3 separate regions of the Homo sapiens genome follow, and regions 1 and 3 are each linked to region 2. Evidence: fine-mapped expression QTL. A gene starts in region 2. Each other region holds a variant in brackets. All regions are shown on one strand. Distances are between the middles of the regions. Region 1 has its middle 19 kb from the start of LINC00656. Region 2 holds the start of CD93 (CD93 molecule). Region 3 overlaps LINC03125 (long intergenic non-protein coding RNA 3125).

What was found. PIP is the estimated chance that this variant, and not a neighbour inherited with it, causes the effect. A credible set is the group of variants that fine-mapping cannot tell apart.
Region 1: its variant is the best candidate, but not a certain one, in a credible set for the expression of CD93 in macrophages (Nedelec 2016, PIP 0.77).
Region 3: its variant is the best candidate, but not a certain one, in a credible set for the expression of CD93 in whole blood (INTERVAL, PIP 0.56).

Annotation. Positions count from the first base shown.
Region 1 is chr20:23,111,335-23,115,550 of GRCh38, forward strand. No RefSeq gene overlaps it. Among named protein-coding and RNA genes, the nearest start is that of LINC00656, 19 kb to the right of the region's middle. The variant C/T (reference allele first, on the strand shown) is at 2,382.
Region 2 is chr20:23,084,311-23,088,526 of GRCh38, forward strand. CD93 (CD93 molecule) reads right to left here and starts at 2,014. Exons shown (of 2, transcript NM_012072.4): 1 at 1-2,014. The coding sequence starts at 1,882. RefSeq lists enhancers at 1,998-2,177, 3,705-3,844.
Region 3 is chr20:23,158,047-23,162,262 of GRCh38, forward strand. LINC03125 (long intergenic non-protein coding RNA 3125) reads left to right here. Exons shown (of 6, transcript NR_199692.1): 2 at 1,726-1,822. It also overlaps the pseudogene RNA5SP478. Among named protein-coding and RNA genes, the nearest start is that of LINC03125, 12 kb to the left of the region's middle. RefSeq lists a silencer at 2,181-2,280 and an enhancer at 3,806-3,855. The variant T/C (reference allele first, on the strand shown) is at 2,489.

The sequences.
Region 1 (4,216 bases), 27 kb after region 2:
CAGACCCTGAGACAAAGACCTGGAGGCAGGTGGTTAACTTGGGAGGTGGGGTCAGGGGAAGGGAGATGGGGAAGGGAGAGGAGACAGGGCAGGTGCTTCCCGAGACTGGTGCTCTGTTGGGAGCTGGAGCACAGTCTCGAAAGGACAGGTGTGAAACGTCCAAGAGCTGACCTGCCAGCAGCTGCCTCCTGCCCCTCACCACAGAGGGTGGCTGAAGCTTTTATGCCCTGGCTCTCCCAGCTGCCCTGCACGGGCTGCTGCTCAGGCTAAGGACCGAGAAGTGCTGATGCTTGAGGGACTCATGGTCAGTGAGGACAGGCTGTGAGCTGAGCTCTGAGCTCGGGGCGAACCAAAGATGGGAGAGGAGCATCAGTGCCCCCCTCCCCATCACCACATTAGAATCCTGCGGGAACTGGCTGGGTTCTCGAAGGCGTTGTTATCGCCCTGTGCTCACACATAAGGACCCTGAGACCCAGGGCCACTAGGGTGAGGCGACAGGGCAGGGCCTGATGCACCTGTCGAAATCCACTTCTAGCTCCCACCCTGCCCCCAGAGACATGCGCCCCATGGGCCGGCACACAGCAAGGGGCTTCGGGGCAGGGTGAAAAAATGGCAAATACACACATTTAAGCCAAAATAATGAAATGGCCCTGGCCCTATCAGCCTCGAAGCTACATCAATGTCACTTTTTTTAAAAACGTAAGAGGAGCTGTGAGGACATCCAGCCCATGGTCACTCCAAACCTGCCACCACAGACAGTTGGGGCCTCCCCGGAGTCCGTGGGCCGAATTTCACAGGCGAGCATTCCCAGGGGTCCTCACCAGCTGACTTAGTCAGTTTGGGCTGCTCTGGCAGCCCCACAGGCAGGGGCAAAGGCAGAAATGTGTCTTCTCACAGCTCCGGAGGTTGCAGTTTCAAGATCAAGGTGTGGGTAGGCCCGGCTCCTCTGAGCCTCACTCCCTGGCCTGCAGATGCCCCTCTCCTCCCTGCTCCGCACACAGTCCTCCCTTTGTGAGTGTCTGCGTCCTCATCTCCTCTTCTCGTAAGGACATAGTCCTATTGCATTAGGGTTTCAGCTAGCCCCCAGGGTCTCACTTACCTTACTCACTGCTTTAAAGGACTTTTCTCCTACTAAGGTCAAGTTCTGAGGTGCTGAGGTGACAAGGTCAACAAATGAATTTTGGGGACACAATTCAGCCAGTATCACTTACATGTTCTGATTTTCCTCCCCAAAATTCTACATGCTACTAGTTATTACTATGCCCATTTTAGAAATTAATGAGATACTCAAAGAAGTGCAGTAACTACAGCAAAATGCCACAGCTCAGATGTCTCCAGCTTCAAAATCCAGAAGACCCAGACAGCTCCTCCAGCACAGGAAGCCAGGACATCAGCTATAACAGCTGTGTGGTTCCTGCAGGTGGAGTTTGGCCTTGCCCAGGTCCTTGGAGGCACGACTTCTGTGTCTGGTGGAACTGTGCAGCATGGCTCAGACCCACAAGCTGTGTGATGGCTTATCATCCCTGTGTAGGCAGGGCATGCTGAGCCAGGCTGACTGGACACCTCTGTTCAGGAAGCATTACCATCCTACCAGCAAGAGCAGGTGAATAGTTTACATGGTAATTAGCCAGCATGCACTGTTCCCATGTGTTCATTCATTTGTTGAAAAACAAAATAAGACAAAACACTCCTTCCTGGCCCTACTAGCTCCCTGGCTTTTCTAGAATATGCTAAGCACAGGCCACTTCAGAAACTGTGAGTTCACCTCTCCCCCTGCCTGGATACTCTTTCTTGTGGTGTTCTCCTCATAGCTCACACACTCAGCTTCTGCAGGTACTTGCCCCCTCCCCCACATTCCCAGGTCTTACCTCCCTCACCTCCCCATCTTCCTTCATTGCACTGGTCACCTTACAGCTCTACAAGAGCAGAGGCTCGCCTGATGTGTGACTAATCCATCCTTAGTACCTAGAGCAGTAGCTGGAGTATGCATCTACGTGGCAAAGGTACTACATGAACACATGGGTTCAGAGTTCAGCCCATTCCACATGCATCTGCAACTCTTCGTCAGGCCCCAGAATGCAGCAGGAGTTTGATACCTGCCATGGGGGCATAAGGAGCAGCAGGCATTGATTGATGGATGGGCTGCCTTACTCTGGTTTCTGCAAATAAAAATAAGAACAATCCAGTCAAGGTAGACAGGAAAAGCCCTGTTAAATTTCTCCTATCAGCTTGCCACTGGAATCCTGCTGCTGTTGCAGAGACCTGGAGACATGGATGGCTTTAGAGGCCCCAGCAGGCACAAGACCTGGTGCACAGGCCCGAGCCAGGCTGGAGAATGACTCAGAGGGCAGGGAGGATAGAGGACCACCAGCCATTTGTCC[C/T]GTGAGTTGCATTAGACCAGGAAAGCCAAGAACCACTTCAACTAGTTGAGGAAAGCTGTGCCTGTTATGCTATGTCCTTCAGAGAGCTTTACATTTTTACGAAGTCCAGAATAGCTGTTGGTCGTCTCACAGATACTTACTTACCCTGCTGCCTCAACCTCCCTCCACCATTCACTGTCCTGATGAAATCAGATGATTTGCGAGCAGAGCAACCTTGAGGGGAAATGACAGCCCCTGAGTTCAGTGTAGTCTCAGGCTGGGCACAGAGGCCAGGCAGCCCCCCGTGGGCCTGGGGTGGGCTGGGCACTGGGAAGGAATTGGCATTTGCTCTGCACCTGCTCTGTGACGAGGCACACACAGTTTACATCTAGGGTGCCACTGCATTCTTACATTTTATTTTAACTTTACATTTTATTTTAAAGAAACTCAGGCTTGGACAGTGAAAGAGACTTCCTTGTCTGTGGGCACACAGCCAGCCAGCAGCAGAACTGAGCTTCTTCCTGCTCCCAGACCAGCCCTTCCCCACTCCCCCACAATCTAGAAGCTGTTCTGGAAGCCGCTGACTGCCTCTTGTCCTTGAGCAGACTTCCTGAGGTCTACACCACCTCTCTGGTTCCTGGAGCAAGGAAGGCAGGTGTTTGTGTCTTCTGGCCAAGGATTCTCAGGAACCAAGAGAAGGGATGGTAACTTTGACACTTCTGTTTTCAGAATTGCTCCTTGTTCTTCCCACCGCATTAGAGCATCGACTGCTGCTTCCTCCAGTGGGACCCATCCTGGTGCTGGCAGGTTGCTCCAAGTGTGGGCACCGACACATGCTGGGCAAACCAGCCCTTGAACCAAGAATTCCATTTGCTGAGTCTGAGAGGCCAGGTTCTCTTTGGAGTCTCAGTTGTAGCCTGTAACATTTGGGCTCTCATAGGCCATATTTCCCACCGCTGTCCTTAAATAGTACTTTAGTCAGATCAGATAACATTACCATACGCTCTAACTCTCCTGTAACTACTAAACCGAAACATTTACAAATATGATAAAACAAGCCTAGAACACCAGAATGGTTCAATTTAACACAGTGATGTAACACAACAACAAAAGGACAGTTCCTGGCTAACACCAAGTCTCAGCCTTCAGAGCGCCATGGGGCTCACAGTGTAGGTTCCCCCAATTCCGAATTACTGGGAAACTCCATTTGCCCAGCAGGGCACTGGGCCCATGCGGCCTTCATATGACAAGGAAGTATCATTTAACCTGAAGGACTGCTTCTGGGTCCTTTTTGTTTTTGTGTGGTTTTTTTTTTTTTCTTTTTTTCTTTTTTTGACAGAGTCTTGCTCTGTCTCCCAGGCTTGGGTGCAGTGGTGAGATCTCTGCTCACTGCAACCTCCGTCTCCTAGGTTCACGCAATTCTCCTGCCTCAGCCTCCTGAGTAGCTGGGATTACAAGTGCCTGCCACCATGCCCAGCTAATTTTTGTATTTTTAATAGAGACGGGTTTCACCATTTTGGCCAGGCTGGTTGTGAACTGCTGACCTCAAATGACCCTCTCACCTCAGCCTCCCAAAGTGTGGGGGTTACAGGCGTAAGCCACTGCACTTAGCCATGGTTTTATCTGCCACAAAGAAAACGGTTCTATTGGGCCCTCTAAATGGAAGCATGGGCTCCGAGAAGTCCCAGCCATTCTGAGTTGCGTAGCGGGCCTCCCAGTCCCATAGGCCTGACCCCTACCTCTTTTTCTTTATTGCCACCCAAAAATGTCCCATACATAACATAACTGCAGAAAGCTGATTATCCCAAAGGAGTCATCTGAAAACCTGAGTTCTGTAAAACACTGATCTAGACTTT
Region 2 (4,216 bases):
AACTGTCTGCCGCATTCTGGGGCTTCTTCTCCTTCTTCTCCTCCCTCTTCGCTCTCCGCTTGCGATAGACCAGTAGCCCCAGAGCCAGGGCCAGCAGGAGTAGGATGGCCACCACGGTGCCTAGGATGTAGAATAAAAGCAGCTTTTGCCCGTCAGTGCCATCGTTGTTTTGTGTGGCCACGGAGGAGTCCCCACCTGCAGGCTCCTGGGGGCCAGAGGCAGCTGTGGCGTGATGGATGCTGGGCTCCCTCCAGACGCCTGGGGACCCACTGGGGGCCAGCATCTTGAGTGGGGCAGATGTGATGGGGGCGTCAGATGACAGCGAAGGTCTACTTGTGGTGGGTGTAGCCTTGGGGGTGCCCTCGGGGCCCCTTGTGGGACTGGCTGTTGCAGCACGGGGCACGGTGCTCCCTTCTTTCTCTCCTTTGTCCTCCTCATCGGGGGGCCCAGATGGTGGTCCCAGAGACACAGGCCCCATGGTGCAAGAGACCCCATTTGGGGCCAGCACCCAGCCTGGCAGGCAGCCACAGTGGAAGGACCCTTGTGTGTTGAAGCACAAGCTGTCGCAGAGGGGGCCCCCCGGGCCCACACACTCATCCACGTCCTGGCACTGAGTCCCGTCCTCCCCGGCCAGGACGTAGCCCTCCTCACAGGAGCAGTGAAATGAGCCATCTGTGTTGGTGCAGCCCTGGGCGCAAGGCGAGCGACCCAGAGCACACTCATCCACATCCTGACAGGCCCCCTCTCCAGGACCGCCCGGCTCATAGCCAACCCAGCATTCGCAGCGGAAGCCCCCAGGGGTGTTGACACACTCCTGGGCACAGGGGGAGTCCTGGCATTCATCCACGTCCACACAGTCCAGCTGACTCGAGTCCAGCTGGTACCCTTGGGGGCAGCGGCACGTGTAGTTTTTCCCATGGGGTCCCAGGACGCACGTGGCCCCCCCACGACATGGGCTGGAGCTGCAAGGGTTTCGAGAGGCACAGGTCACCAGGTCATCCAGCAGCCGGAATCCTGGTCGGCAGCCGCAGAGGAAGGAGCCATCCCCCCCTTCAAAGCAGTCCTGGTGGCAGCCCCCATTGTTGAAGTTGCAGCCATACTTGGGGCTGACACAGAGGGGGCCCGAGCTGCCCCAGTCGAACACATCGGGGGCCTTCTCCTTGCACAGGAAATAATGACTCTGAGTCTCGTCCTTGTCACCTTCCCCACAGGCTACATTGGCCGCAGAGGCAAAGGGCACAGCCTCCAAGGAGGAACTGGTGGTCTGGAAGGGGGTGGTGTAGGTCACCTGACCTGGGCCCCCCAGGGCCAGAGGCCGGCACATGCCTTTGAAGCTGAACTTGCACACGAAGCCCTCAATGTTACTTCCGGGGGAGCCTGGGCTCCCACAGGGGCCCTCAGACCACTTGGGGAGGCGGCTGGGAAGGAGCGGCTGGGACAGGTCCAGCAGCAGAGACACACAGCGCTTGGAGATGCACGAGTTCCGGAGCTCCTTGTGCCAGTTAGAGTAAGGCGTGTCCTCCCCCCCGCCCACCCAGCTGAAGCCCTTCAGCGGCAGACTAGGGTCCAGGCACTTGCCCTTCTCTCGCTGGAGCCCAATCCAGAACTTGCTCATCCTCGCCGTCAGGGCTGCCTCCCGCCTCAGGAGCTGGGCCAGTACTCGCTGGACGTGCTGGGCCTCCTCCTTGCTCTTCACAGTGGCCAGGTTGCCCCCGTTCTGGTTGCAGTGGTTCTGGGCCTCGGCAGCGCTCAGCTTGCCCGAGTGGGCCGTGTAGCAGGCGGTCCCCACGCAGACCACCGCCTCCGTGTCAGCTCCCGTCCCCGCCCCGGGCTGGGTCAGGAGCAGCAGCAGCAGCAGCAGCAGGCCCATGGAGGTGGCCATCCCGGTCTCTGTGTGGCCCTCTGCGGGAGGCGAGAAGCCCAGCGGCGACAGGAGCTTCTATCTCGGCTCCCAGCTGGGCCCCAAGGGGAGCTGAGGGGTGAGCTGCAGCCACTCCGGCGCAGAGAAGGACACAAAGGCTGAGGGCTTTCCACGTCCCCCTGACCCAAGGCGCATCCTGTACTGTTGTACTTCTTATTTCTCACCGGATGTTGGGGCTTCCTGCAATGAATAGTTCTCTGACTCCTGCTGCCTTCATCACGGTGCTGTTGTTCATAAAAGGAGTCAGGCAGCTCTGCCGGGTCCCTGGCTCAGCACTGTGGAAACAGCGACGGGGGGAAGACGTTACAGCCCCGAGATACTGCCGGCTTGATTTTGGCTCCATTCTCTTTCTCATGGCATGAGGAGCCTCGGAGGCATGCCATGGAGTGAGCAGGGGCTTTGGGGGCTAGGAACTCGAGGAAGCTCCCTTAGTAACCCATAATAAAATTCCACTTTGGTTTGCAAACCACCAAAAGAGAAAAAAAAAATTCTGAGACTTAAGACACAAGGCCATGGATGGTTATAATTTTCAGCCTTTTTTAGAAGCAAACTGGACTTTCCTTTTGCCTAGCTCATGTTCTCTGTTGACTTTGGGAGCCTTTTTTCTTTTATCCTCCCATCGTGAACCTTAAATAGACAGGCATTTTTTAAATAGGATACGGGTCGTGGGAATGTCTGGGTTTTCAACATAATGCCAAGCTCCTCGATAATGTTAATCCAAATTGGGTGAAATTTGGCAGTTCTGGGGGTTTCATAGTGGAAATATTGCATTGTGAGGTGTCAGGGTCACAAAAAGCATCAGAAAGAAAATGAAAATGTGTCCGGCCTCGTGGCGCAGGGCTTGCAGGCTCACTTCCCCCGGCTCAGGATTCCTAGCAAGGGCCGGAAATCTGGGCAGGGAGCGGGAATCGAAGCCCGGGCAGGCCCTCCCGCGACACCGCGACTCGGCAAAAGCCAGGGACTCACAGTGTGCTTTTCCTGCAGCCACAGACCTTTGCTCATTGGTTGGGATCCCCCAGGAGGGGACCCTGAGACAGGATTTGGGGAGACTAGTTTATGTGGGAGGGGAAGTGAAACAGACAAGGAGGAAGCCAACCCATGATGACTTGCTGAGAAGGTGACCCTGGGCTGCTGGAGCCAGTGCCAGGAAACTCTGGGGGCCTGAGGGGACCACACCTCAGCACCATCTCAGCTGAGGGAGAGGCTCCACTGCTCTCCAAGTCCCCTGTCATTGGTAGCAGGCTGTATCTCTCACTTTGAGAGACTGACTATAAATTCTAGCCCTGCCCAGTGACCAGGGGTCTCTCTCACATAAAACTTGTTTCTATGGACAGACACCCTTGTGGCTCTCGTCTGACCCATGTCCAGTTTATTCCTATCAAGACAGCCACTTCCTAAGAGATCCCTGATGGGAGGAGAGTTGGGTTGGGGTGTGGGTCAGGGGAGATGCAGGAGGCAGCACAAGAAGACACAGGAAGCAACACAAGCACCGTGTCACTTACAGATCCCAGGGAGAGGGCAGTGCACCCCACGGGGCCAGCAAAAAGTGGGGAGCTGTCTGGGTCACAAACACTCACCTGGAGGGGGGTGAAGGGAGAGAGAGAGACCTGGGTCCTAAGCCTTTATTGGGGTCCAGGACGTTTCCCAAGCAGGTTTCCCAAGGGGACTTCTCACTGGTGGGTTTAGAGCAAACAGACACGGGCTCCGTGGGGTCCCTGTGGCTGAGAGGTGGGCATGGCGGCATGTCTGGGAAGTCCCTGTGGGGTGTGGAGTCACTGAGACCATCAAATGGGCTGTATCTGCCTGTCCCACAGGGAAATGGTCACCAGGAGGTGGGTGTACAAGGCAGATATCTGGGTTGGCCGCATTGAGGAACTGGGAGGGGGTGGAGCCCTAGACACCGTGTCAAGAGCAATAAACCCTGCTTCTGGTAGGAGAGGGTCCAAATTAGATTCAAAATGGATGCAATGCACAATTATAAGAATTCTCTACACAGCGGCAACTCTTTGGTGCTCTGCACTGACCGTGAGGGCCCCAGGGGAAGAAGCGCCACGGTGGAGAACACAGTGAACGCCTGTGGACCCGGCACCAGCGACCACCACAGTGGCCTCCATGGAGATGTTGAGTTGTCCCGGGGGCTAGGAGCTCGCTGGCTCCCCAAGGGACAAGGAGGCATCTCTGACTCCAGCTGGATACCTCCTAAGAATGTGCCTTAAGTCCTTGCATTTTAGCAAAGATATTTGAGACATTTTGGGAACTCTCCATAGAAGCCACCAGACCCTCCCTGTGCCCCTT
Region 3 (4,216 bases), 74 kb after region 2:
GATGAGGCAGCAGGTCTCTGAAGGGCAACTCAGTTCATCTCAAACATGATGCCCAGAGAAATGTTATTTTTGCTCCCAGTTCCACTCTGTGATTAGCAGCTCACATCTTCCCATTCTCAGGCAGCCCTGGGTGCAGGCTGTAGGTGCCAGGAGGACAAGGGACCCCTCTTCTTTTTATCTCCATAAACCCATGGCTGAAACAAGTGCTTGGTACTCAGTAGATAATCCATAAATATTTACTAAGTGAGTGTTAATTTGGGCAAGTCATTTCACTTCTCTGAGACTCAGTCTCAAAAATGTGGGGAGATTAACTCCCAGCTTCCTCCTAGTATCGTCAAGCAGATTAAATGAGATTCAGAGAAAGCAAAGTGGTTTGCATTGTGTGTCTTTCATTATTCATAGTCAAAAAATCACAGCTGATGCCCAGAAAAGCACCTTCTACCCTGCTGACTTGCACCTCCACTGATCCGGGAGCATCTTCTCTTTTAAGAATATGCTAAAATATTTGCTCTGGGGGAAAGGCACTTGTGCTGATCCAAAGAGATTCAGGAAGGAGGAGTCCTTTATGGCCTCATCTTGCCCTTAGAAACTTCTTCCAGCCCATTTCTCCATGCTGAGGAGGAAAGCTCAGGTCAAGAGAGCAGTAGAGAAAAGATCAAGTGCTCCTATGGGCCTTTTGAATACCTCTAACCCAGCCGTGCAGGGATTCACCTTGCTTCCATGCATCACGACGAGGGAGGGTCCATCTCCATCCCCTCCTCAATGGAGGACATCAAGCCACTGGACCAGAGCCCTTCTCTGATCGCTACCCCCAGCTGTGTTTCATGGGATAAGAAATCAGGTATTGTAATCCTCTAAAAGACACAGAAGCAATTTTAGAAAACATACATTGAGCTGGTGCTGACATTTTGGGATAAGTACATAAACATGGCATCCAAGAATTTAAGACAAGCACATTGCATGGGTGTCCAACATTTGCCATTGGCCATATTTGTGTTTTAAAGAAGAATTGTAACCTAAAAATAGGAATCACACTTTATTCATTATATTTTTCACAGAGCTTTATTTTTGTATTGAAGGCTGGAAGCTATTAAGCTGCTGTCTCCTTACAACTGACCAAAGCCTGTGTGTGCACGTGATTTTTATTCTGGTACTTTGCCCTGGGACATCATTTCTGCCCCTTGCCACCGGTGCAAGCTGGACTTGAAGACAAGGGTCCCAGCACCTGGTGGAACCGCCCAACAAGCACCAGAGTCAGTCACTGGTTCCTTGTACCCCATTTTCAAGCACCCAAAGTGGTTCTTCCCCTCATGTATCGTTAGATCTACAGCTAAGCCAAATAGTGAAGGTGAAGACAAAGGAAAGGGCTCAAGATAACATTTCCCTTCCCTGAGTTGAAGTCATTAGTGACCCAGAAAACAGGAAGGGGGTGAGGCCTCATTTAGGGAGAGGAAAAGCAGAGGAAGTGGCACCCGGGGGTGTGGAGCAGGATGGAGCACACTTGAAGTGCTCCTTAGAAGGAGGCTGGTGGAGCCAGCCTGGGGGTGGGGTGGGTGGGGAAGCTTGGCTGGGGACACAGAAGGGCAGAACCACTCCCAGGATTGTTTTCCAAGGACAATTTACAGTACCCATTGTTGGCTTTTCCTCTGGGTAATTAGACACAACATGGGAGCAAGGGATCCTCATTCATCTTGTCACTGGGTTTTAATTTTCTTGGTCCTTCAGCTCCCAGCTGCCCTGGCAGATGTTCTGTCCACAAGTTCCAGGAAGTTCAGCAATGCTTCTTCTGCACTACTTTCACCCAGAGCTGACATGGTCTCTGGTAAGCAGCTTTAATTTGATATGGCTGGATGTACTTTGGGGCTGGCTGCAGCAGATGAGAAAAGCAACTCTTTTTATGATTTCTATAGCAGGGTTCATTGTGAAATTTAAAGCAGAGAGGAGACTTATTTCTTTACCCTGGGTGTGACACCCTTTGAAGCTAGCTGAAGTAAAATGCTTTGCCAAGGAGGAGGGAATGAAGGAGTCAGCATACAGAATGAAACTGGACCTTAATCCATCAGTGAGATAGACACGGCTGCTTAACAGATGAACGAATACATTTCCATGGTGCAATGAATCATTTCAGTTGTCCCCTTAAGAGTACATTTCTGAGATGTATTTCTATAGTGTGTGTGCGTGCACCTGTGTGTGTGTAACCGAAATATAAATTGGGCTTCATGTGGTCCAGGCTATACACAGAGTCACTGTCAAAGCAGCACCAGGCTAAAACAAAAGGCATCTATGGTTAGTTTCAGTTTTCACTCAGGTGTCTGGAAGAATGCTAAAAGGGATTCAATTTAAAAACCAGAGCAACACTTCTTAAAATTATGTTTTATTTATTTTCTTATTCTTCCAAAACTCGGTAGCCTTTCACTTGAAATGGCAAACATTCACATCACTTCCAGCTTTTGAGTCTTTCCTATTTTCATCTTCTGTCTGTGCTCTA[T/C]CAGCATTTTACATGGACTGTAAAGTTTTCTCCCTATTTACCCATTACCTGAATTCTTCAAAACAAAAGAGGGCTCAGAAGCTGATCCAAGAAGCAGGAATCTCCTTCCCTTCCTGTCTCCGCCCACCCTGCCTGTCTTCGTCCTCTCAACAGTTTCTGCACCCCAGACTTGGCTGGCTAACACCCAGCTCTCCTTAGGAGCAAGCAAGGGAGAGGCTGAGACTCATTCAGAGGTTTCCAGTCCTCTGAATGGGTCCTTAGGCAATGGTCAGGAAATGAAGAGCAGGGGTTTAGAGCAGGGAGAAACTGGAATTTTTTTTTAAGCCTATAGCACCTGATAGTCTCAGTCTCCCATCAAGGTACTAACCAGGCCAGACCCTGCTGAGCTTCTGAGATCTGCTGAGATGGGGCATGTTCAGGGTGGTATGGCTCTTGGCAGAAATATTATTTTCTGTGTTGCTAAATCATGTTGCTGCCCTAGCTTCCAGACCCAGCTCTGCAGACTTCTGAAAAGAAAAGCCCATATGGACGGGTGCCACCCAAGGGCATCTCCGCTGACAGCCCAACTCCCCCCCAGCCCCCAACACATACACAGGGCAATGTCTCCTTGTCGGGTGTGAGTGTCACCCTCTGGAGTTCTCTGAGACTCTCCCACACTGAGCAGCCTGGAGTCCAGCCCTGGGTTTCCTCACAGGCCTCAGGGTCGGTGGTGGAACACACCAGGGTCCTTGCTTGTGGAAACTCTCAGAGGAGGCTGTGCCACCAAGTAAGCGTCCGTGGGGTTTCGGATCGCCTCTGGGCCACTCCTGCCTCTAGGAACCTCGGCTGGCACCTCGAGGTGTGGGCAGAGGGAGAGGCTGAGGCAAGACAAGGCAGCAAGGTGAGCCCAGGAGGCCGCAGGAGCCAGCCCCAGCTCCCCCAGGAGGCCTGGCTTAGGCATGCTGAGGCTCCATCCCCCTAGCCTGCTTTTCACAAGTCAGGACTGACATTCTGTGCAGACCCAGGGATCCTGACAGAGCTGAGTAAAGTATGAGTGTGCAATCTGAAAGTTCTTGAGCCACACTAGCATGCGAGCACAGGAAACTGCTGTGCGAGTGCAGGGCCCTGGAGCAGATCCTCCACTGTGGAGGGGCGCAGCGGCTGTGGCCCCGGGCTGAAACGATGGCTCCCCAGCCTTCCTAGCTGTTGGGGGTGGGGTGCAGCGGCTGTGGCCCCGGGCTGAGACGATGGCTCCCCAGCCTTCCTGGCTGCTTCCCCATTTCCTCCCACACAGGCTCACCGCTGTAGTCCTGGACACACTGTTGGGCTGGTGCATAGCAGGAACCCAATACATGAGTTGAGTGACTGGATAAACCCGGAGGCACTGACACCCTCCAACGGGGAACCCCTTCCTCAGTTCACCTCGCATTTGCAGAAAGCAGAGTAACATATATGACATTACTAGAAAATAGCAGGGGAAATGTAAAAATTGGGTTCAAAGTAGCCTCCTGGAGTTGAAATGGCTGCAGCTGTGTGGAATGGAACAGCAAAGGCAGCTCCACAGCAGAAAAGGGTCTCAACTTAGGCCCTGGGAGATGGACACAATTTCCCACCAGGGAGAAGAGAGGCCAGACGCCTCTAGCCACAGGGATAGTTGGCACACAGAGGTGTTAACTTTGGGATGAGTGTGGTTGAAGCCAGGGAAGGCCAAGCCCTGGCATCTCACATTCAAAGGAGCAGGTTCTCCTT